Homo sapiens: one gene and its partners. The gene in region 2 interacts genetically with the main gene of each other region. Each region holds a gene or a part of one and is shown on either strand. Other genes may lie near its edges.

Region 1 (3,500 bases), on a different chromosome or scaffold from region 2:
AGAAAATTGCTTGAACCCAGAAGGCAGAAGTTGCAGTGAGCCGAGATTGCGCCACTGTACTCCAGCCTGGGTGACAGAGCAAGACTCCATCTAAAAAAAAAAAAAAAAAAAGGAGAAAGCAGGGCTATCCAGATGGTTTCAGAAGGTTATTTGTTACTTAAATCTTCCTAATAACATTTGTTTCTCAACATTATTTTAACATAAGAAAAAAGGCCAGCACTGTGGCTCACACCTGTAATCCCAATGTGCTTTGGGAGGCTGAGGCAGGAGGATCACTTGAGATTAGGAGTTCAAAACCAGCTTGGGTAACGTAGCAAGACCTCATCTCTACAAAATGTTTTTTTTAAATAGCCAGGCATGGTGGTGTGGGCCTATAGTCTCAGCTACTCCGGAGGCCAAGGTGGGAGGATCACTTGAGACCAGGAGTTCAAGGCTGCAGTGAACTATGATCATGTACCATTGTACTCAGCCTGCGTGTCTCTTAAAAAAAAAAAAACAAAAAAAAAACCACCAAAAGCTTTATTTCTTAAATTTAACATGCAAATTTGTATTACTGCACTTCAGTATAGATGCCTAGCTCATTGTAATCAGTTGGTTGGATAAGTGTGCATCACTTCCTTTCATATTTTGTATGTGAGTTTACAAATATATATGTATATACATGTTTTATTTTTAGTTTCTCCCTTGTTTTCCTCAAAAAGGTTAAGTGGTAGAATCAGGAATAAAACCCAGTCCTTCTGTCTCCACACCTTCCTTTTCAAGGTGTGTTTTAATTACATCTTCACTATTGTTGATAGTATACTAGGTTATGGAGCAATTTATCACTAGTTTTTAAGATGTAACAAAATGAAATCAGTTTAACTGTTGGGTGTTTAGATATTGTAATGTTTTTGTTAACATTTAAACTTGCTTTCTTATATCCCTTCTGTAGGCTGTTGAAGCCAAGGAAAAACAAGATGAACAAGTCGGACTTCCTGGGAAAGGGGGGAAGGCCAAGGGGAAAAAAACACAAATGGCTGAAGTTTTGCCTTCTCCGCGTGGTCAAAGAGTCATTCCACGAATAACCATAGAAATGAAAGCAGAGGCAGAAAAGAAAAATAAAAAGAAAATTAAGGTAATACTCTTGTGGTGGCTCACACCTATAATCCCAGCACTTTGGGGGCCAAGGTGGGTGGATCACTTGAGGTCAGTGGTTCAAGACCAGCCTCCCAACATGGTTGAAACCCTGTCTCTACTAAAAATTAAAAAAATTAGGCGGGCATGGTGGCAGGCGCCTGTAATCCCAGCTACTCGGGAGACTGAGGCAGAAGAATCGCTTGAACCCGGGAGGCAGAGGTTGCAGTGAGCCAAGGTCACACCACTGCACTCCAGCCTGGCCAACAGAGCAAAACTCCATCTCAAAAAAAAAAAAGAGGTAATACTCTTAAAAATATTATGCATAAAATATTGATGCATATGTCCACTTAAAATTGAAAAAAAAATGTATAAAATTTTTTTGTTGTTGTTGTTGAGATGGAGTCTCGCTGTGTTACCCAGGCTGGAGTGCAATGGCAGGATCTCAGCTCACAGCAACCTCCGCCTCCCGTATTCAAGCGATTCTCGTGCCTCAGCCTCCCAAGTAGTTGGGGGCACATCACCACACCCAGCTAATTTTTGTATTTTTAGTAGAGATGGGGTTTCACCATCTTGGCCAGGCTGGTCTCGAACTCCTGACCTCAAGAGATCTGCCCACCACGGCCTCCCAAAGTGCTGGGATTACAGGCGTGAGCCACCGCTCCCAGCCAAAAATGTATAAAATCTCTAATCCCATAGTTCAGAATTTATTCTATATCCAACCCTAACTTTGCTATCTTTTAGAATGAAAATACTGAAGGAAGCCCTCAAGAAGATGGTGTGGAACTAGAAGGCCTAAAACAAAGATTAGAAAAGAAACAGAAAAGAGAACCAGGTATTACAACATTTTTAGAAAAATGGTATAAAGTGAAGATTAAATTGTGTTTGTTACCTAGTACATTCCACATAGATGTTCAAAACCTTTTTGTTGAATTGAGAAACGTGAAAGAGGACTGTATCTCAATTCTACTTGGACCTCTTTTTTTTTTTTTTTTTTTTTTTGAGACAGTTTCACTCTTGTTGCCCAGGCTGGAGTGCAATAGCACAATCTCGGCTCACTGCAATCTTCACCTCCTGGGTTCAAGCGATTCTCCTGCCTCAGCTTCCTGAGTAGCTGGGATTATAGGTGCATGCCACCACGCCTGGCTGCTTTTTGTATTTTTAGTAGAGACGGGGTTTCACCATGTTAGTCAGGCTGGTCTCAAACTCCTGACCTTGTGATTTGCCCGCCTTGGCCTCCCAAAGTGCTGGGATTACAGGCGTGAGCCACTGCCCCTGGCCTGGACCTCTTTAATATCGTCCTTGGGATTTGATTCATTATAGAAAATATTTTGTAATGAAGTAGTTTGTTAATTTGAATTCCTTAATTGGGATCTAAGAAAATACCCAGTTTATTAGATTTCATTTTCTAGCCACTTACGAGGTTCTAGTATACAAAGTTTCTTAAGAAAAGTGACTACATATTAGTAATGTTTGTAGTATCTCTAGAGTTCAACATCATGCTTCGGATATAAATAATGTCCACTCAATGAACTAAATAGAATTAATAATTCTGTTAATCATTTGATAATGCCTTTACTGTCTACTTTTTTTGAAACATCTTTATTGAGATATTCACATGCCAAATTTGCCCATTTAACGTATACCATTTGGCTGGGCGCCATGGCTTATGCCTGTAATCCCAGCACTTTGGGAGGCTGAGGCTGGCGGATCACTTGAGGTCAGGAGTTCAAGACCACCCTGGCCAACATGGTGAAACCCCATCTCTACTAAAAATACAAAAATTAGTTGAGTGTGGTGGTGCGTGCCTGTAGTCCCAGCTACTCGAGAGGCTGAGGCACGAGTGTCGCTTGAACCCAGGAGGCAGAGGTTGCAGAGAGCCAAGACTGTGCCATTGCACTCCAGCCTGGGTGACAGAGCAAGACTCCAACTCAAAAATAAAAATAAAGTATGCCATTCAGTGGTTTTAGTATAGACAAACAGTTTTAATACAATTTATTGCCCCCCAAGAAAACTGAACTCATTAACAATCATTTGCCATTTGCCACCAACTCCTCTCCACTGGGTGACCACTAAAAAATCTAGGGGCATTTCCTATAAATTAAATCATATAATATGTGGTCTTTTGGAGCTGACTTCTTTACTTAACACATTTTCAAGGGTAACCCATGTGGCAGCCCATATATTAGTACTTCATTCTTTTTTTTTTTTTTTTTTTGAGGCAGAGTTTCGCTCTGTCGCCCAGGCTGGCATGCAGTATGCAGTAGTAGTGAGATCTCGGCTCACTGCAACCTCCGCCTGCTAGGTTCAGGCAATTCTCCTGCCTCAGCCTCCCGAGGAGCTGGGATTACAGGCACGCACCACCATGCCCAAATAATTTTTGTATT
Region 2 (3,500 bases):
GCTGATGTGGATATACTAACATTAGACAAAATAAACAGACTGATGAAAACTGTCAATTTAGCTGGGCATGGTGGTGCACACCTGTAGTACCCACTACTCAGGAGGATCACTTGAGCCCAGAAGGTCAAGGCCAGCCTGGTAAACACAGAGACTGCATCTCTACAAAAACATTTTTAAAAAGTTAGCTGGGTATGATAGTGTACACCTGTAGTCCCAGCTACTTAGGAGGCTGAGATGAGAGGATCACTTGGGCACAGGAGGTCAAGCTATATTAATAAAGGGAAAAAAAATCCACATGATTATCTCAATAGACGGAGAAAACATTTGACAAAATCCAATACTCTTTCACCATAAAAACAAAAACCCCACAGCTAACATCATACTTAATGCTGAAAGACTCGAAACTTAACCCTAAGATCAAGAACAAGACAAAGACTCTATTTCTGTTCAACATAATGTTGGAAGTCCTAGCCAGGACAACTAAACAAAAAGAATTAAAAGGCATCTGGGTTAAAAAAAAAAAAAAAAGTAAAACAATTTCCTGTATCTCTATTGATAAACAATGTAATTTTTTTTTTTTTGAGACGGAGTCTTGATCTGTCGCCCAGGCTGGAGTGCAGTGGCGTCATCTCGGCTCACTGCAACCTCCGCCTCCCAGGTTCAAGTGATTCTCCGGCCTCAGCCTCCCGAGTAGCTGGGATTACCGGTGCCCGCAACCACGCCCAGCTAATTTTTTGTATTTTTAGTAGAGACGGGGTTTCACTATGTGGGCCAGGCAGGTCTCAAACGCTTGACCTCATGATCCACCCGCAACGGCCTCCCAAAGTGCTGGGATTACAGGCGTGAGCCACCACGCCCTGCCAAATAATGTAATCTTAATATATTAAAAAACCTAAAGAATTTGTCAAAAAAACTACTGGAGTTAATGAATTCAGCAAATTTTCAGGATACAAGATCAATATACAAAATTCATTTGCATATAGCAATGAACAATTTGAAAATAAAATTTTAAAAAATTCCATTTACATCAGCATCAGGATAAAAAAAAAAAGAATAAACAGGATTACATTTAACCTAGGAAGTGCAAGACTTGAACACTGAAAACTACAAAATATTCTTGAAAGAAATTAAAGACCCTAAAAAAATGGGAAAAAAAAGGCCCCATGTTATTGGATTAGAAGAGTTACTATTAGAGGTTTAGCATCCTTAATCTCAAATCTGAAATCCAAAATGTTCCAAACTCCAAAACTTTTCAGGTGCTGACATCATGTGACAAACTGAAAATTTCATACCTGACAGGTTTGCTTTCTGATAGTTCAATGTACAAACTTTGTTTCATGCACAAAATTATTTAAAACATTGTATAAAATTACCTTCAGGCTATCTGTATCAGGTATATATGAAGCATAAATAAAATTATTCATGTTTCAACTTGAGTCCCATCTGTAAGTTATCTCAATATGCATATGCAAATATTCCAAAATCCAAACAAATGTAAAATCCACAAAACTTTTGGTCCCAAGCACCTTGAATAAAGAATACTCAATATATACTAAAATGGAAATACTCCCCAATGTAATCTCTTTTAAAATTCCAAATTTTTTTCTTGCAGAAATAAGATAATCCTAAAAGACAGAAAAACAAGGGGCCACAAATAACCAAAATACCTTGAAAAAAAGAACAAACTTGGACAACTCATATTTTCTAATGTCAAAATTCACTATAAAGCTACAGTAATCAACATAGTGTGGTAACGGCATAGCACAGACATATAGATCCATGAAATAAAAGAATTGAGTCCACAGGGGAAGAAAAAAAAAAGGAAAAAAAAAGAATTGAGATTCCAGAAATAAACCCATACATCTATGACCTATTTATTTTCAACAAAGGTGCCAAGACCATCTAATAGTAAAACATATCTTCAACAAATGGTGCTGGAATCTGAATATTCACATACAAACATTTGAATTTGCACCCTACATCATACTATATACAAATATTAACTCAAAATGGACAAAGACCTAAATATAAGAGCTAAACTTTAAGACTGTAGTCCCCGCTACTTAGGAGGCTGGGACTCCTAAAAGAAAGCATAAAGTATAAATCTTTACAATCTTACATCAGGCAACAGTTTCTTAAATTTGACACTAAAAGCATAGGCAACAAAAGAGAAATTATAGATCCACTGGAATTCATCAAAATCTAAAACTTGAGTACATCAAACGACACTAACAAGAAAACAAAAGAATGGGGGAATTTTCTCCCACAGAATGGGATAAAATATTTGCAAATCAGGTACCTGACAAGGTTCTAGTGTCCAGAATGTAAAAGAACTCTAACAACTCAACAATAAAAACAAGCCAGTTAAAGCATGGACAAAATATCCGGATACTGTTATAAAGAAATGGCCAATAAGCATATAAGAATATGCTCAAGATCATTAGTCTTTAGAGAGATGAAAATCAAAAGCAAAATGAGATAAGACTTCATACACACTAGGATGGCCATAGCAAAAAGGGGAGGCAGTAAGTGTTGGCAAGGTTGTAGAGAAATTGGAACCCTCTTACATTACTGATGGGAACGTAAAATGGTACAGGTGCTTTGGAAAAATCATTTCACAGTTTCTCAAAAAGTTAAATGAAGAGTTACCATATGCTCCAACAATTCTATTCCTCCATATATATCTAAGAAATTGAAAACATATGGTCACACAAAAACTGGTACAAGATTGTTCACAGCAGTATTATTCATAATGATGAAAAAGTAGAAACAACCCAAATGTCCATGAGTGGATGAATGGATAAACGAAATGTAATACATACACACAACAGAATATTATTCAGCCATAAAAAGGAATAAAGTACTGATAGATGCTATGAACCTTGAAAACGTGCTAAATGAAAGCAGACAGACCCAAAGGACTACATGTTATATGATTCCATTTATATAAAATGTCCAAAAAGGCAATCCCTAAAGACAGAAAGTAGATTCGAGGTTGTCTGGGAATGGAGCAAGAAAGGAATAAAGAGTGATTCTAGGTGGTACAGAGGTGTTTTGTTTTTTTTTCCCCGTGGTGATGCAATGTTCTGGAATTAGGGGCGATGGTTGCACAACCTTGTGAATATACTAAAAAGCACTGCATTTTACATTTTAAAATGGTTAAAGTGATGATTCTTATGTTATGCAAATTTTATCTCTGAGTCTACCTGAAAGAAAGTGAATCACCTATGTGAGTGAGAAGACTATCAGGCTGACCTCAGATTTCTACACAGTAACAGTTCCCCCAATTTTTAATTTTGAAAACTCGAATCTACAGAAAAACTGAAAAAAGAGTATAATAAATAACCATATACTCTTCATTGGCCTTATCTACCAGATATGTGTGTGTTTATTGGCCTTTATGTAGTTGTTTGCCCTTTATTTTTTTAAATTTTAAGCTGAATGAAAATATCACTTCACTTCAACTTTGCTTTGACACTTGTTCTCCTTTGAACAAGGGC
Region 3 (3,500 bases), on a different chromosome or scaffold from region 2:
GTTTTCAACCTACTGCCAGCGGGCATGAAGACAGGGACTAGAGTTCACCCGAAGCTTTAAAACAGTCTTCTTGGCTGGGTGCGGTGGCTCACGCCTGTAATCTCAGCACCTGGGGAGGCCAAGGCGGGTAGAGCACAAGGTCAGGAGTTCAAGACCAGCCTGGCCAGCATGGTGAAATCCCATCTCTACTAAAACTACAAAAAATTAGCCAGGCATGGTGGTGTGCACCTGTAGTCTCAGCTGCTCAGGAGGCTGAGACAGAAGAATCACCTGAACCCAGGAAGCAGAGGTTGCAGTGAGCCAAGATCGCACCACTGCACTCCAGCCTGGGCAACAGAGCAAGACTCTGTCTCAAAACAAAACAAAACAAAACAAAAAAAAAACAGTCTTCTCCAGGCACATGAAATGCCTGTCTCCTCTTTTAAGGGAGATTTTATGAAGTTTCAGAATGAAAAAAGTGATTTAACTTAAATTTAGTCCTGTATCATTACAATATATTATTTTTATAAATAAACAGGCATCATTGGCAATGATGATTGGCAATCTAGTCATCACTGGTCTATGTTGAAAACACTACTAAAACATTTGTGATCTCAAAGCTCAGTTAAGAAAATACTTTGGACATTAAATACATATTGGAGCTTTTCACTCTCCACGACAAATAATACATCATAAACAAGGACAGAAACTACAGAAGCACAGGCCTATCGGGCCTGCCACAGCAAATCGTGCTTGCTACTGGGAGTTTAGGCTGACTGCCCTGCACGCATGCCTCTGTTATTTATTCACAGCTTTCCTCCTAGTGCCCTTGCCACTCAGGGGTCTTGCTGTCACATGGCTTCAGACCTTGGGACACATACTCTTTCCTACCCAACACTCATCTCTCCCTCCCTTCACCTAGCTAGCTCCTACTTTGTTTCCAAGTCTTAGCTTAGCCATCCCTTCCTCTGGGATGGGAGCACACACACCCTGGCCCTGACCACACATCTTCATCCTCACAGCACCCTGGACTTACCCCTCTAGCAGTACTTGGCAAATATATTTTAATGGCTGGTTCAGATATGCCTCCCCCACTGCCTGTGAGCTCCTGAGAGGGACTGTTTTGTTCACAACACCACCAGCAGGGTCTAGTACTGCACCTGGGTTCAGATCAAGCTCTTAATAAATGCTTGCTGACAGATGAATGAATCGTTAGATTTTCTCATATATGTGCCACTGAGCAATCACATGTTGATATACACACACACAAAAATGAGTGAGGTTGTAAAATCACCGTGTTTTTTATCTTCGGAAGAACTCTTTTGCCAGTTTCGGAGCCAGCGTAGGAGTTTGTTGGCACAGCTCTGGTCACCTTGCTGTCCAATTATGGTCTTGAGCGAGGTTGGCTTATATTTATCCACCCAGAGCAAATTTTCCACTTTGTTTTCACTGCTGTCATCAGCCAAATTCCTAGCCTTGCTGTCACCACTTGTCTCCTCAGCCACCTGCTCCTTGAAATCCAGGCTTTTCCAAAACACATCTGTTTCCTTTTTTATTGTCTTTGCCAAACTGTCCCTTTTGGAAGTCGGCCTGCTCTTTTTAGATTCTGATTCCTTTTTAGATGGACTAATTTTTCTTTTTCCTTGGACATTTTTTTGGGGTGTTCTCTCCAGTTTGGACTCTTTCTTCATCTTAAGAAGTGGAAAAATGAGGAAAAAAGAAACCTGATGAAACATACAGAATTTCTATCCTGCTAAACGTACTACAGAGAGCAATCAGAGATATCCAAGTGGGCTACTCAACCTGGGCTGGTCTTTTCACAACAGACTTTCCTGTTTGTGGAAATCACCACCTTCTAAACTATAAAAATTAACAAACACACCAGAAACCACCAAATGCAATTTCTAAAAGTGACAACACGTTGATTTTTAAAAGTAATAAGTACTCCAATTTTAGTTTGAAAAAAACAAGGTACAGTGTTGAGATTTTTGTTTCAAAGTTTCCTAATTAAAAGTTAATGCCTCGACAAAAACTTGTACACAAATGTTCATAACCACATTATAGCTAAAAGATGGAAACAATCCAAATGTCCATCAACTGAAAAAGAAACAAAATAGGATGTGTCCACACAATGAAATATTATTTACCCCTAACAAGGACTGAAGCACTGATACATGCTACAACCCAGGTCAACCTTGAAACCACTATGCTAAGTGGAAGAAGCCAGACACAAAAGGCCATATATTCTAATGTCTCCATACACACGTGAAACGTCCAGCATAGGAAAATCCATAGAGACAGAGCAGAGCAGTGAGTGCCACGGGGTGGATAGAATGAGTGGCTGCTGATAGGTACAGGGTTTCTTTTCAGGGTGAGGAAAATGTTCTGGAATTACACAGTGCTAATGGTTGTATACTCTTGTTAATATACTAAAAACCACTGATTTGTATACTTTATAAGGGTGGATTTTATAGTATGTAATATCTCAGTTTTTAAAAAAATTAGTGCCTCTTTAGCAGTGGATGCTAAAATTAGTGGATGAATGTTTAAGGACAAACAGGATATAAGCATAAGTACCTCCTTCTCCTGCCAAGACAGTTATCGATTACAAAGGAAAAAATAGTCACTTTACTAGTGAAGGAACCCAGCACTAGTTTCAGTGGGATGCTGAATCATCTTAACCAAATAATCAAGATTATCCTCACTAATAATAAGACGTTATTGACATCCTGTATCTATGATAGGATGCACTGAGGACACAAGATCACATCCATGGTGTTCTTAGAAAAAAGGCATAACCTCAACCTAATCATGAGAAAACATCACAGATCCAAACTGAGAGACATTCCACAAAACTGACCAGTACTCATTAAAAGTGTCAAGGTTGTAAGAAGACAAGGAAAGACTGAAGAAATGTCATCGACGGGAGAAGACTAAGAAGACACAACTAAATGCAGTGTGGGACCCTGGAACAGAAGAACTACAGGGAAAAATGTAAGGTTCGAAAAATATGTACAGGTTAGTTAACAATACGGCATCAATGTTAATTTCCTGGTTTTTATAACTATGCTATGGTTATGTAATCGAAATCATTCCCTAGATTTCTCTAACCGGAATAACCTGGATGGACCATCTTGCCATTTGGGTGACAGAGCTGGGGACATTAAAATCTTGGAATGCTGGCAATCCTGTGTCCTGTGTGTAAAAAAAGATGGTCTACAGTGGGAATGAATGAGGCTAACTAGTAGAAACAGAGAGACAGAAACTGAAGGGGTCCTCACAGCTTTGTAGTCTGTGGATCCAATAGTTCCTAGACCAGACCCTCCCTGCCCATAGTTTAGTTATGTGAGCCAACATTTTTCCTTTTGCAAAAGCTAATACAGGCTAGGTGTCTGCACAATTTAAAAAGTCCTAATACAGTTCTAATTGAAAACAAATTTATCATGCTAATACCTATTAAAATATCCTTTAAGGAACTCTTAAACAATAACCTTTGCATAAAGTCAACGTGAGAATATGGC
Region 4 (3,500 bases), on a different chromosome or scaffold from region 2:
TTTCCAGAAGTCTAGATGATGCCTTAAAACTTACTGAACAACCAGAATTAGCAAATAAAGTAGACATGGTCTGGATAGTTGGTGGCAGTTCTGTTTATAAGGTAAGTGTAGTTGTTGGTAAATAAAAACAAATGTTCTGTTCTACTTTCAGCTTCCTTGCCATTTAAAGGAAGTGGAAGAAACAGGTATAACTCATTGTCTGAACCTTTAAAAAATTAAGCCATGCGTATAGGAAGCAGCACATTATCTGTACTGTAAATTATTTGTTGTTAGTTGAAATTATTTGTTGTTTGATACTATACAAACTAAATAGAAATGCAAAAATAAATATTTTAGTCTGTATCAGCCTTTTTTATTTATTCATTTATTTTTGAGACAGGGTCTTGCTTTGTCACCCAGGCTAGTGTGCAGTGGCACTGTCTCACTGTAGCCTCGAGCTCCAAGGCCCAAGCAATCCTCCCACCTTTCCTCCCAAGTAGCTGGGATTATAGGCACACACCATCGTGCCCGGCTAATTTTTGTATATTTTGTAGAGTCAGGATTTTGCCATGTTGCCCAGGCCGGTCTTGAACTCCTGGGTTCAGGCAATTCACCTCCCAATGTGCTGGGATTACAGGTGTGAACCACCACACCCAGCCTATTTATCTTTTTAATTGGCAAATAATTGCATATATATATATATATATATATATATATATTATGTACAACATGTTGTTTTGAAATGTGTATACATTGTAGAATGGCTAAATGGAGCTAATTAACATGTATTACCCACTTATTTTGTGTGGTAAGAACACTTAAAGTCTACTCTCTTAGCAATTTTCAAGAATACATTTGTTATTAACTAAAATAATAGATGTTGTACAATAGATCTCTTGAACTTACTCCTCCTATGTAACTGAAATTTTGTATCCTGTGACCAACATCTCCCCAATACCAATCTACTTTCAAATCAAAGAATAATTGATGTTTCCAATTTAAAATCCATTCTAAATCTTTTCCTGAGAATTGTACTTGCATTGCACTGGTTTCTACTCCCTGAATGTACCCTAGATACACTGAGTTATGCCTTTGTCTTTCAGGATGAATATATCTCTTACTGAGAAAGGGTTGGGGCTCTCAGTTGATATACACTAACTAGATGTATATGAATTTATTACAAGTAGAAAACTTCTTCAACCAATTTTTTTTTGTTTTGTTTTTGTTTTTTTGAGATGGAGTCTCACTCTGTCAAGACTCAGTCGCCCAGGCTGGAGTGCAGTGACACGATCTTCGGCTCACTGCAAGCTCCACCTGCCAGATTGACGCCATTCTCCTGCCTCAGCCTCCTGAGTAGCTGGGACTACAGGCGCATGCCACCACACCTGGCTAATTTTTTTGTATTTTTAGTAGAGACGGGGTTTCACTGTGTTAGCCAGGATGGTCTCAATCTCCTGACCTGCTGATCCACGCACCTCGGCCTCCCAAAGTGTTGGGATTACAGGCGTGACCCACTGCGCCCGGCCAATATACCTCTTTTTTAATACCAAATGACTTCCAGCTTTAAAATTTTTGAGGATAACAAATAGAATTCTTTGCCTTTTAAAACACCAATGAAAAATTAACATTTATGAGGAGGAAGAAAAATCTAGTTTCTGCCATGTGGGTGGTCTTGTGGTAAGATATATACAGTGAAATTATTTTAGAAAGAAGAGGTAGGCCGACGCCTGTAATCCCAGCACTTTGGGAGGCCAAGGCGGGTGGATTGCTTGAGGTCAGGATCTAAAAACCAGCTGGGCCAAGATGGTGAAACTCCATCTCTCCTAAAAATACAAAAATTAGTTGTGTGTGGGCGCGGGCCCCTGTAGTCCCAGCTACTTGGGAGGCTGAGGTGGGAAAATCACTTGAACATGGGGGGCAGAGGTTGCAGTAAGCTGAGATCGTGCCACTGCACTCCAGCCTGGGTAACAGAGTGAGACTCTGTCTCAAAAAAAAAAAAAAAAAAAAAAAAAACTCTCAGTTTCTTGGGCTCCTGTTTCTAGAACCTCTTATGTTCCCCATTTGTAATAGAAGAAAAGGGACATTTTTTCTTGATATTTTTATCCAAGTATGAATTTCTTCTAAGAAAACAAGTTATTTATTTTGTTCAGTGCCTACCACACTTTGAATGATTCATTACCATAGTCACTTGAAAATGTATTCTTTAAGCAATATAAGTACGTAAATGCCTTTATATAATATGATAAATCTACATATAGATAAATAGGAAGTAGAACCTTCGAATGGTATTTTTACACCTGCCTCACATCACAACAGCTTGTAGATATCATTCAGGCTTATCTTCCTATGGGCCAAATCGGACCTCCCAGCCTGTTTTTGTAAAGAAAGTTTCAGTGGAACACAGACCCACCCATTCATTCAGTTCTGTCTGTGGCCTGCAAAGGTAGGAAACCCTATGGCCCTCAGAGCCTAAAATATTTACCATCACTCCTTTTACAGAAGGTTTGCCTTGTATAATCAACTTTTTTTTTCTTTTTTTTTGAGACGGAGTTTCGCTCTTTTTGCCCAGGCTGGAGCGCAATGGTGCAGTCTTGGCTCACCGCAACCTCCGCCTCCCGGGTTCAAGTGATTCTCCTGCCTCAGCCTCCCAAGTAGCTGGGATTACAGGCATGCGCCACCACGCCCAGCTAATTTTGTATTTTAAGTAGAGATGGAGTTTCTCCATGTTGGTCGGGCTGGTCTCAAACTCCTGACTTCAGGTGATCCACCTGCCTCGGCCTCCCAAAGTGCTGGGATTACAGACGTAAGCCACTGCAGCCGACTTATAATCAACTTTAATGCAGAACTTCACCACCACAGTCAATCTAATAATCCAGACAGCTCCTAAGTGACTAAGGGGCAGGTAACATAGACAGCATGTGCAGGACAAAGGGATAATTCACGCCCTAGGCAGGACAGAGCAGAATGGCTCAAGATTTCTTCACACTACTTAGAACAGCATGTCATTTAAATCTTATGAATTATTTCTGGAATTTTCCAGTTAATATTTTCAGACCACAGTTGACCATAGATAACAAACTGGAAAGTGAAACTGCAGATAAGGGGGGAGTCTGCATTCCACTTTTTAAATTTTTGGTACAGTAAGAATTAGTAGAGCATCTATTTGGTTGTAGCAAAGATAATAAATGATTTAATATAAAATGATATATTGAAAATAAAAAGTGAAATTTGTTCTGTACCCTTATTTGGAATTTTAAAAATAAACACTTGGATTTGTTGTGTGTGTGTGTGTGTGTGTGTATTTTTCTTTTCTATAAACTATTTGAGATCAAGAATTACTGCTTTGTTAGAATTGCAATTAAGACATACTTTTTATGAATGAGAATTTTAATACACTCATTCTAGGGCAACTTTTTCTGTAGAAATTATCAACCATATTTTAGGCAGTAGTTAGAAAAGTCATGTACAATATAAAGCCAAATGTTAATACAATTGTTAGCACCAAGAAGCAGAAAAATTAC
Region 5 (3,388 bases), on a different chromosome or scaffold from region 2:
CTCCCAGGTCACTTCACACAAACCCCCATCAGCAGAATAATCACCTAAAAACCCTAAAATGTCAAGTCCCTTATCTTTCCCAAGGACCCCTGGGGAACTGAGACTCCCCTCATCCAGCCCTGAAGTTAGGCAGAGCCCCCACCCCAGCACTAATATACGCCCTCTTGGTTTCACATAGGGCCAAGACAGACAGCACCCCACACCAACTACCCAGGCCTGGTTCCCAGCATCCCCTGAGCACACACAAGCCACAAGAACATTGCTGGGGGAGGGGAGACACTCCAAGGACTTCCCTAACACAGCCTCGGGGTGAGCTGGGGGTGCCTTGGCCCTGTCTAGGAAATCCCCACAAAGTCTTGCCTCCCTGACTGACGCTTACCCTGACCCCCAGGGCCTCCCTCACTCTGAGCACAGGCCAAGTTGGTATAAAGAACATAAGCTAAGGCATTAAAAGATGCCAGCCACCTGTCCCGACCCTGTGCTCCTGACCTCACCCTCTGAACTGAGTCACACATTCACTCATGCACTTGACACTTCCTTGGTCCCCAGTATGGGCAAAGGAAAGAGGTACAGATGCCCGGGGCTCACAAAGGTACGTAAACGAGGCCCGGGCTTACGGAGCTCACAGGCTAATGTCAGGAGAATGGGCACAGACCCCTCCCTCCACGCATCCTGGGGGCACTTGAAAATGTGTGGGCTGCTTGGGGTTGTCACCATGACTGGTGGAGGATTAAAGGTATCTAGTATTCTTGGATGCTACAGCTCCTTCAGTGTGTAGGCAAAAGTGCCCCATCCTAAACGAACAGCCAGACCCCTTGCCCTCAGAGCCCCAGTCTGAGGAGGGAGACATAGCCCTGGCCTGAGGGAGCCTCAGTCTGAGCGGGGAGACAGCCCTATCAGGGAGCCCAGGTCGGAGGGGAGAGACACAGCCCTACCCTCAGGGAACCTCAGTCTGAGTGGGGAGACACAACCCTTTCCTCAGGGAGGCCCAGTCTGAAGTGGGAGACTCAATTCCTTCCCCCAGCAAGAAACACTGAGTGAGTGAGAAGCCCAGCCATGCAGACTTCAAAGGGCCGAGGCAAGGCCCCAGCGAGAGCATCTGTGCTTTGTTGACATTGTCCACACCTGGAATCGGCTTTCAGCTTCTCAGCATTACTACCAGAGGTAGTAATAACATCAGGACCAACAGCCACTATGAGCAGAAGGACCACAGGACACAACACACAGCTTGCGTCCACACCACTACACTAAGCCACACCAGCCTACCACTCAGGCAACCAGGGCAACCTCGGAACAGGCCCCGCCAGGCTGGACCAGTGCCTGCAGCCCACCACAGGGGCCTTAAAAGCAGAGAAGGCAGCAGTCACCAGGCAGGCAGCTAGAAACTGAGCAAGCAGCTGGCCCCTCTCAGGCGCTCTCCCGCTCGCTCGCTCGCTCACTCTCTTTCTCTCTCTCTCTCCCCATCTCTGTGTGATGCCCCTCTCTGACTTGCTTGCCCTCTGGGAACCAACCTGCAAGTACGTTCGTTTAACTCAAGCTGCCTCGCCTTGCAACGCGAGTCTGTGTTTTTGCAGGAACATTTACACGTCTGCGGATCTTGTACAAACAAATGCTTTCTCCGCTCTGAGCAAGGCCCACAGGGACTGCAAAAAGGCAAAAGGAAAGACATCTAAGCTAGAGCATCAGCAGAGAGAGAGAAAAAAAATCACCATGCAACACCCCCTAACATGTCCGCAGCTGCACCCCCACCCAGCCGGTCAGCCCCCAGGCCCTGGAAGGATCCGAGCGCTACAGCAAAAGACAGAGAGAGCGGCGGAAAGAGGCAGCACTGGCTAGGACACCTGCCGCAGGAAGAGGCGGGCACAGACGGGCAGAGAGTGCAGGGAGAGGCTGCCATAAGGGGCAATGCTGTGTCTCTGGGAGACAAGGGTGAGTCTCAGGCCACAGGGACCCAACTGCTGTTGCCCCCATCGGAGCACGCCTTGACTCTTCACCTGCTGGGGATGGCAATCAGGGGCCACCTTCTCCCCGTGCAAGGCTCATGTCCAGGCCCTTCCACCAAGGTGGGCTAAAGTAGGGTGTGATGGGAGGCTAAGCCCGGAGGCGGTGTCCCCAGGCCAGGCCGCTGGTGGCCAGAGGGCCCAGGGCAGGGCCCACCACAGCCTCCGACCCAGAGGAAGAGGCTGCCCTGCAAGGAGGCCTCTGTGGGTGCCATGGGTTGGGCCGGAATAGGGGGCTCCCCTCCAGAGGCCCCACCTCCGTGAGGAGCCAGGGCACTTCCACCAGATGAAGGGAGGCCGCCACATGGTGTCTGATCCCACCCAAGCTCCTCCTTCAGCCAAGGAGTCATTCAGCAAGCTGCCTCCAGTCATTCACAGCCCTTCTTGGGCCATGTCTGCCCTCCCCACCACCCTCAGCTTCCAGACGAGTGCAGAAGCCTAGAGCAATGGAAACCAGTTGGGTGAGCAGGCACCTGTGCCAACATGGGCCCGCCACCAGTGCCCAGTGGGTGAGAGAAAATCGGTGCCCAGCCAAGCCAGGGTCCCCTCCCTTAATCCTCCAGGCCAAGTCGGCACCCCCATTCACCCCAACCCTGGACCAGCAATGCCACCACCAAATCTACCCGTTGGTGCCAATTAGTGGAGTGAGAGAGTGAGAGAGAGACACGGGCCAGGAGGATGAGAGCCAGGGAAGGACCAGGGGAGGGAGGCAGGGTTACAGGGAATGGCAGGCGGAGGTTGTACTGGGGGCCAGGGAGGCTCCAGGGCATTAGACAGCAGCGGGCACCAACGTACACGCTCCAGGACTTATACCGGGATTTCTTGCGCTTTCGTTTTTGCCCCTTTCCCTTTCCTCGAACTGATTTTCTGGAAAATAAAAAAACAGAGACAGAGAGAGAGCGGGGGCGGTGGGGGGAGTAAAAGAAGTGGTAAGGTGGGCAGGGATGGGGGAACGACCAAAGCAAAGCCACACAGGGCCGCTTCCCGGAGGAAGTGTCAGGAGGCAGGTGGTCTCTGGGGAGGCATGCGCGGGCGCACACAGGCGTGTCTGGGCAGCAAGCACTCGATGGCTCTTTCTTCTCCTCACGCTGCCCACCATGGGATGGCAAACCCAGCCCCTGACAAGGCTTTGGTGGGAAGCCGAGACTGGGTGGAGGGCACAGGACCCAAAGGTCTCCACACTCACAGTGGCTCCCAGTCCCCGGCAGGGGGCAAAGCCTGAGGGAAGGCTCTTTGCCCAGCAGCCCTGTCCAAGTCTGACCCTGAAGGTCCGGGGGTGATAAAAGGTAGGCCAGACTTTGGGGAGAAGGTCAGAGACCTGCCTGGATGGGGAGCAGGAGTGGGAGGGAGGGCTGTGTATCAGGCCTTGTGCCTTCATTTGCAACTGC
Region 6 (3,500 bases), on a different chromosome or scaffold from region 2:
TTTAAGCCCCTAATGGATGTGGATGCTGTGTCTAGATTTTCACCATTGCAAAGAACCTTGCTAAAAGCATTCTTCCAGCTAAAGCCTCCATTCAATTCCCCTGGGGTAGTAAGCCATTTGCAAGAAGAGAGGCGCCTAATGAAAACATCACAAATTCTTTTTGATGTGTTTTTTTATACTGAGTTGTGGAACAGGGTCCTGTACACCTGGCTTCAAGGCTGGGAGGCCTGGCTTGGACATGTGGTCAGCCATATCACGTCGTCCCCCTGCCAGCCTCAGTGTCCACATCTACAACACTTGGGGTTTGGCTGGAGAGAACATGAGAAGCCGAGGTGGCCCTTCCTTCTGGGTCTAGCAGAGCATGGGTGTCTCCAGTGTGGCATTTGCTCCTGGGGCTTCTTTATCGGGCAAGGGGACAAGGTCTGGCTTCCCGGAGCATCCCTGTTCCAGCCCCGTGTTGTGCCGGCCATGTGACTCACAGCTCCTCTCATTTTCATGAGTGTCTGGGTTTGACGAGAAATACATGTGCCACCCTGGTGATACGCCTCCCCAGCGAGGGTGGCCGGGCTTATTTCAGTTGGGGGAAATGGCTTTGCTGAAGCTTTGGGTGGGTGACGTCTGCTTAGGATGCATGTCTGTGCCCTTGAACCCGGCGCCTGGCCTGGAGGCGGGCGATGCACCTCCTGCCTTACCTGCCTGCAGGGTTCCAGGTTTAACATCCTGCGCCTTCTCTCCTGCCTCCTCCACACTCCAGGCTGGACCTGTACCGAGCCTCGGGTAAATTTGAGCTTCTTGATAGAATTCTTCCCAAACTCCGAGCAACCAACCACAAAGTGCTGCTGTTCTGCCAAATGACCTCCCTCATGACCATCATGGAAGATTACTTTGCGTATCGCGGCTTTAAATACCTCAGGCTTGATGGTGAGTATGAGCCAGTGAGGCGTTTCTTACAGGGTTTTGTTGTTGTGGCTGCCACAGAAGCTCCTCACTGGCATTCCCTCCTGTGAGGCAGGGTGAGGCCCAGGCGCTCTGGGTCCAGTGGCCAGAGTGGGCCTAGCCACAGGCTGAGCATCTTGGGCACTCGGCACTGGGACAGGCCGTGGATTGGACGCCGGGTGTCCTGACTCCTAGGCTGACAGTCTTTCCACGACAATGCTGGGCGCACTGGGGAAGGGGTGCCCTGTGCACTTTTAGCTGGAAGTGACAGAATTCCATACCATGTGGACACAGGAAAGAAAGCACCAATAGGCTTACATAGCTCTAACCCCAGGAGGTTAAACATCCTTCAGGCACAGCTGGATCCAGGCATGCAGGTGATATTGGAGAGACTTTTCTCCAGCTCTTTGCTCTGCCTTCTTCCATCTTGGCTTCCTTTCCACCTGCTCAGTGTCCCCAACAAAGGCAGGTCCCAGGCTGGCTCTCATTTAGCTGCTGTGAGCCGCATGCCCATCCCTGGGCCATTCGTAGCAGCCCAGTGACTGCCACCTTGCCACAGGTCAGGCCTGGACCTGGAATCAGACTCTGTGGTGAGCACGGAGGGAGGGAAGCAAGCACTGCCAGGCAGGAGCAGCAGCTGCCGTAGAGAGGCTCTCAGCCCAACCCCCTGCCCTGCGGTCCCTGATGGGAAAGGTCACCGCCTGTGTTTCTGCGCCTGCCTGCCCCAGCACACGGGAGCTCAGGGAGGAGAGGCTGTGAGATGCCGACAGGGCACGTGAGACATGTCTGTCAGTCCCAGTGGGTCAGGGAGCCCTGGAGTGAGTTCTTCGTGGGAGTTACTAGAACTGGGCTTACGAGAAACACGAGCATGAGCTGCTGAGACAGACACGGCTCAGCCAGTTTGTTGTTCCCTACACGACCTCCCAGAGCCTTTGTTGAAGCTCCTGTGCAAGGTCTGTCTCACAGCAGGACACCCCAGACCTCCATACCCCTTGTCCCGTTGATCACTTGGACCTGTGTTTGCTGGGCCAACCTGCCCAGGTGCCACCCGGAGTGTGCCCTGTGTGTCCCTCCAAACTGCAGGTCCTCCCCGGGGTTCTGTCCAGGACCACTCTACAGACACGAGTCTGTTGCAGGGGTCTCCCCGGCTTGCCTTCTTCCTTGGGGGCTTCCCACTTTCAGCTTTGAGGCTGAAAACCAAAATCCTTCAGGGTCCTCATGGCCGGGCCACCCCCCACCCTTTCCTCTCCTACGGTCTCTCCAGCGGCTTCTCCCGTCCTCGAGAGGGCCAAGGCTTCCTGAGGGCCATCCCGTCTGTGTCGTGTCCCTGACTCCCCCAGGAGAGAGCCTGGTTCCCACCCATCCCAGTGCCCTTCTGCCTACTCCATAAGGACAAGGACTTTGGTCAGTTGAACTACAGATGTGTCCTCTGCATGTGATGTGGTCATGGCCACAGGGCCAGAGAATCCATTGCGAGTAGAGGAAGGGTAGGAGCTCAGTGAAGTCTCCTGAGACTGCATCTCCCATGGGTGGGCTGGCATCTGGGAGCCGGGTGGCCCCTCACCTCAGCCCCTCCTCCGAGCTGGAGTAGCAGGGGCACATCTGGTGCCTGAGAGAGGGTGGGACGGCAGGTGGATGGCCAGGCTACTGTGGGCTTCTGCACCGTGCCTGGGCATGTGTAGGCTGGTGGCAGGAAATGGCCAGTTTTTATTTCTTCTTTTTTTTGAGACGGAGTTTCACTCTTGTTGCCCAGGCTGGAGTGCAGTGGCATGATCTCAGCTCACTGCAACCTCCGCCGCCTGGATTCAAGCGATTCTCCTGCCTCATCCTCCCTGGTATCTGGGATTACAGGCGCCCGCCACTACGCCCAGCTAATTTTCTTGTATTTTTAGTAGAGACGGGGTTTCACCATGTTGGCCAGGCTGGTCTCGAACTCCTGTCCTCAGGCGATCCACCCACCTCAGCCTCCCAAAGTGTTGGGATTACAGGCATGAGTCACCGCGCCCGGCCTGCCAGTTTTTATTTCATCACCAAAATGACTTCAGTGTTCAGGGGCACCTCTGTCCGAACTCCCAGCAGCGCAGGGAGTGTTGACATTGCCTTAATGCCCACAACGCTGAGGGCATCGTGGGTTGTCACCCAGGAGACCTGCTCTGGCTCCTTGACTTGGGTTTTCTGGGGCATGGGGACACTGATCCTGCCAGAAAGGACACGAGCCCCCTTTATAAGGTCTCCATGCTTTTACCGTAGAAGATTCTCTTTGTGAACCACAAAACTTTTTGAGACAGGGCTGAAGGCAGGTGCACCCACAGTCACTGTCCACCCACCCCCAGGTCCCTTGTGTTGCGAGCGGCGGTGTTGCCGGCATTGGCCGCTGTGTCTTCCGCTCCCCATGGAATGGCACAGGGTAGAGTAGAGGAGAGAATCCAGGGCTGTGGTGGTGGTGGCTGTGCTGACGCTGGACGCTGTGGCCTAGCTGTGGGCTGGGTGCTGGACTCTGTGCTCCAGGCCCACCTCCTCTAGTTCTCCCAGCGGGGCCTGTTTTCATTTCTGGGATGTGTGGA
Region 7 (3,500 bases), on a different chromosome or scaffold from region 2:
AAACTAGTGAGGGAGGTGAGAGGGGTAAGGTGGGAAGAGTGGTCCCAGCCAAGGAAACAGAATGCCTTGTTTAAAGAAGAGAAATTATGTTGTATTTGAGGTTCATGAGGGCAGCGACCATGTCTTTTTTGATCATCATTGTACCCAAGTGCCAAGCAAGGTGTTTGGCTTAGAGTAGATTCTTACTACATATTCCTTCAAATGTTAAGTGATTGATAGGCAGCATAAGAAGAGCCCCAAAGGAACTGTCAGACATTAGGGGTAAAACCAAGAGAGAGTAGCATCTCAGAGGCCAAGTATCTTTGTCTGTTTTGTGCTGCTGTGGATATCACAGACTGGGTAATTTATGAAGACAAGAAATTTATTTCTCATATTTCTGTAGGCTGGGAAATCCAAGAGCATAGCAGTGGCATCTGGTGAGGGTCATTTCATGGCAGAAGGCAGAAGCAAGCAAGCAAGCAAGCAAGCAAGCAAGCAAGCAAGCAAGCAAATGAGACACAGAGAGAAATGGGGCCAAACTTACTCTTTCGGGAATCCGAGCCCACTTTTGCAATAACAACATTAATCCATTCGTAAGGGTGGAGCCCTATGACCTACCTAATCACCTCCTAAAGGCTCCACCTCCTAATACTATTAGAATGGAATAAAATTTCAACATGGGTTTTAGAGGAGACATTCAATCCATAGCATGAAGGAAGAATATTTCATGAAGGAAAGAGTCGTCAGATTAGTTAGCTGTGTTGACTTTTGATCAGCATGTAATTGCATTGTGAGTTGAAGAGCATTTGTACTTGTACTTTCCAACTTACACATCTTTGAAAAGTGTACATTGACTTCTGATAGTATCTCAAAACTCATATGTAGCAATCTGAAATTAGCACTGGAGTTTAACAGGAGGATGTAGTAGTTGATTATTTTTTTTTCTGAACTAGAAGCCTCTTTTGACAAATGTATTTATATTTTATTTAGATTTTTTTTTTTAGACGGATTCTTGCTCTGTCTCCCAGGGTGGAGTGCAGTGGCGCTATCACGGCTCACTGCAAGCTCCACCTGCTGGATTCACGCCATTCTCCTGCCTCAGCCTCCCAAGTAGCTGACACTATAGGTGTCCACCACCACGCCCAGCTAATTTTTTGTAGTTTTGGTAGAGACGGGATTTCACCGTATTAGCCAGAATGGCCTCAATCTCCTGACCTCATGATCCACCTGCCTCTGCCTCCCAAAGTGCTGGGATTACAGTCACGAGCCACCGTGCCCGGCCTTATTTAGATTTTAACTTGCTTTCTGGTTATATATTTGAACAGATGCAGAATATGAATACATTTGTAGCAGTTTTTTTTTTCTTTTTTTTTTTTGAGATGGAGTCTCGTTCTATTGCCCAGGCTGGAGTGCAGTGGCATGATCTTGGCTCACTGCAAACTCCGCCTCCCGTGTTCACACCATATTCCTGCCTCAGCCTCCCGAGTAGCTGGGACTACAGGCACCTGCCACCACGCCCAGCCAATTTTTTGTATTTTTAGTAGAGACGGGGTTTCACCTGTGTTAGCCAGGGTGGTCTCCATCTCCTGACCTCGTGATCTGCCTGCCTTGGCCTCCCGAATGTAGCAGTTTAAGTAAAATGAAAATGATGAAATGAATACCATGGGATTTACAATAATCAGTCTCTGGATCAATATCTTAGTAGTGGTTGGTTTTTACATATGTGTATAATAATGATACCTTATGACATATGTAGTAGGGAAGAATCGATAGTAAGATAACTTAGTCTTAAATTATCAACTAAATTTACTATTGTATATTTAAAGTGGGCTTAATTAAAATCCATTTATATTTTAGAATTTTTCCAAGAACATTTTTGCAATTCTTCAATCTGTAAAAGCCAGAGAAGAAGGGCGTGCACCTGAACAGCGACCTGCCCCAAATGCAGCACCTGTGGTAAGAATGCTTTACTGCTTTACAGTAGATTTAATGAAGTTGCCACTTATATTGCAGTGTAGTAACGTTGAAGACATCTTCACATTTTAAAATCAGTGGATTCTAAACCTTTTGCTCCTTTAGCATATCTGAAAGATGTGAAAGCCCTCCCCAACATTAAAAGTTACTTACTTCAGCAGTAATTCTTAACTGGAGCAGTAATTCTTAATATACCTGGGTCAGAGTCTGAAAAAGGTTAATTAGGGAAAGCCCTCTATTTATTTTAGGTAAACTGTGGCTGGCCTACTCATTGTTGCTTGGGACAATTGCTAACCATTGTTAATAACATAAATCCCTGTTAACTCCCAGTTTGGGGTTCTTTTTGGCATTGTATCTATTACATCTTGGTGAATGTATTTCTCTTGATCACCAGCCATGCTGTCCTTTAATTGTACCTCCATTTCAGCTGCTCTGAGAGTTGACTGCCTTCTCTTTGAAGTGCCACTTAAGACCCTCCCAAAGTAAATTTCACGTATGACATATAGCCTATATTTAAATTCAAACATCCTCTAATTTTGTTGAAAATCCTTCCAGCTATTTTCATATGATTCAACAAAGGAATAAAACATACAAATGAAATTGTTTCTATTTTCTGCAATAGAAAATAGAAGATTCTATAAATAGAAAATTTATAATTTTTTTTTTTTTTTTTTTTTTTTTTGAGACAGTCTCACTCTGTTGCCCAGGCTGGAGTCAGTGGCACGATCTTGGCTCACTGCAACCTCCGCCTCCTGGGTTCAAGCGATTCTTCTGCCTCAGCCTCCCAAGTAGCCAGGATTACAGGCGCATGCCACCCCACCCAGCTAATTTTTGTATTTTTAGTAGAGATGGGGTTTCGTCCTGTTCAAGACCAGGCCGGTCTTGAACTTCTGACCTCAGGTGATCTGCCCACCTCGGCCTTCCAGAAAACCTTCTATATTTTTAAAACTCTGTTTCAAGTTTTAAAAGGCACATTGAAATGTATTAGAGTACTAATACAGCCTTTGCAACTACTTTGTAGTAGTTTTATTTGCTCATGAAATTGTTGGAATTTAACTTTTAAAGATGGTAGGCTTTTGTTGATAATTAGATAAATACTTTTAGTTGACTCTCCATCAAGTACTTAAGTGCCTTCTATTAGGAAGTCTGCTAATGATCTTGAGATACAATAGTGAGAAAGATTATAGTCCCTACTTTCTTTGAGCTTATAGTCTAATACAGCAGTCCCCAACCTTTTTGGCACCAGGGACCAGTTTCGTAGAAGACAGTTTTTTCATGGACCAGGGGGAGGTTTTTGGAATGAAACTGTTCCACCTCAGATCCTCAGGGTTTAGTTAGATTCTCAAACGACCATGTAACCTAGATCTCTCAGCAGTTCCCTACTTATTAGATGTTTTTTTTTTTTTAAAGTAGTGGAGTAAGAGCTATGATGGCAAAGCACAAGGTACTTAGAATTATGAATTTGTTGACATTTTGAATAGCTGTTGATAGGAAACATGTCAAACCTTAAAACAGTTTTACCATTTGTGACTGATTATTCTTTCTGT

Evidence for each region.
Region 1: changes in CHEK1 (region 2) and TOP2A are lethal when combined (synthetic lethality), as found in Homo sapiens cells (one large-scale study listed by BioGRID).
Region 3: changes in CHEK1 (region 2) and RFC1 are lethal when combined (synthetic lethality), as found in Homo sapiens cells (one large-scale study listed by BioGRID).
Region 4: changes in CHEK1 (region 2) and DHFR are lethal when combined (synthetic lethality), as found in Homo sapiens cells (one large-scale study listed by BioGRID).
Region 5: changes in CHEK1 (region 2) and VEGFA together harm fitness more than expected from each alone (negative genetic interaction), as found in Homo sapiens cells (one large-scale study listed by BioGRID).
Region 6: changes in CHEK1 (region 2) and SMARCA4 together harm fitness more than expected from each alone (negative genetic interaction), as found in Homo sapiens cells (one large-scale study listed by BioGRID).
Region 7: changes in CHEK1 (region 2) and CDC73 are lethal when combined (synthetic lethality), as found in Homo sapiens cells (one large-scale study listed by BioGRID).

The regions. Positions count from the first base shown.
Region 1 is NC_000017.11:40,393,897-40,397,396, reverse strand, and holds part of TOP2A (DNA topoisomerase 2-alpha), read left to right. Parts: intron 1-931; coding exon 932-1,114; intron 1,115-1,857; coding exon 1,858-1,948; intron 1,949-3,500. UniProt on the Homo sapiens protein: Key decatenating enzyme that alters DNA topology by binding to two double-stranded DNA molecules, generating a double-stranded break in one of the strands, passing the intact strand through the broken strand, and religating the broken strand.
Region 2 is NC_000011.10:125,645,663-125,649,162, reverse strand, and holds part of CHEK1 (serine/threonine-protein kinase Chk1), read right to left. Parts: intron 1-3,500. UniProt on the Homo sapiens protein: Serine/threonine-protein kinase which is required for checkpoint-mediated cell cycle arrest and activation of DNA repair in response to the presence of DNA damage or unreplicated DNA.
Region 3 is NC_000004.12:39,307,363-39,310,862, forward strand, and holds part of RFC1 (replication factor C subunit 1), read right to left. Parts: intron 1,671-3,500; coding exon 1,274-1,670; intron 1-1,273. UniProt on the Homo sapiens protein: Subunit of the replication factor C (RFC) complex which acts during elongation of primed DNA templates by DNA polymerases delta and epsilon, and is necessary for ATP-dependent loading of proliferating cell nuclear antigen (PCNA) onto primed DNA.
Region 4 is NC_000005.10:80,634,484-80,637,983, reverse strand, and holds part of DHFR (dihydrofolate reductase), read left to right. Parts: coding exon 1-101; intron 102-3,500.
Region 5 is NC_000006.12:43,780,211-43,783,598, reverse strand, and holds part of VEGFA (vascular endothelial growth factor A, long form), read right to left. Parts: intron 2,868-3,388; coding exon 2,796-2,867; coding exon of another isoform or gene 2,745-2,795; intron 1,644-2,744; coding exon 1,512-1,643; intron 1-1,511.
Region 6 is NC_000019.10:11,027,030-11,030,529, forward strand, and holds part of SMARCA4 (SWI/SNF-related matrix-associated actin-dependent regulator of chromatin subfamily A member 4), read left to right. Parts: intron 1-754; coding exon 755-921; intron 922-3,500. UniProt on the Homo sapiens protein: ATPase involved in transcriptional activation and repression of select genes by chromatin remodeling (alteration of DNA-nucleosome topology).
Region 7 is NC_000001.11:193,146,031-193,149,530, forward strand, and holds part of CDC73 (parafibromin), read left to right. Parts: intron 1-1,836; coding exon 1,837-1,935; intron 1,936-3,500.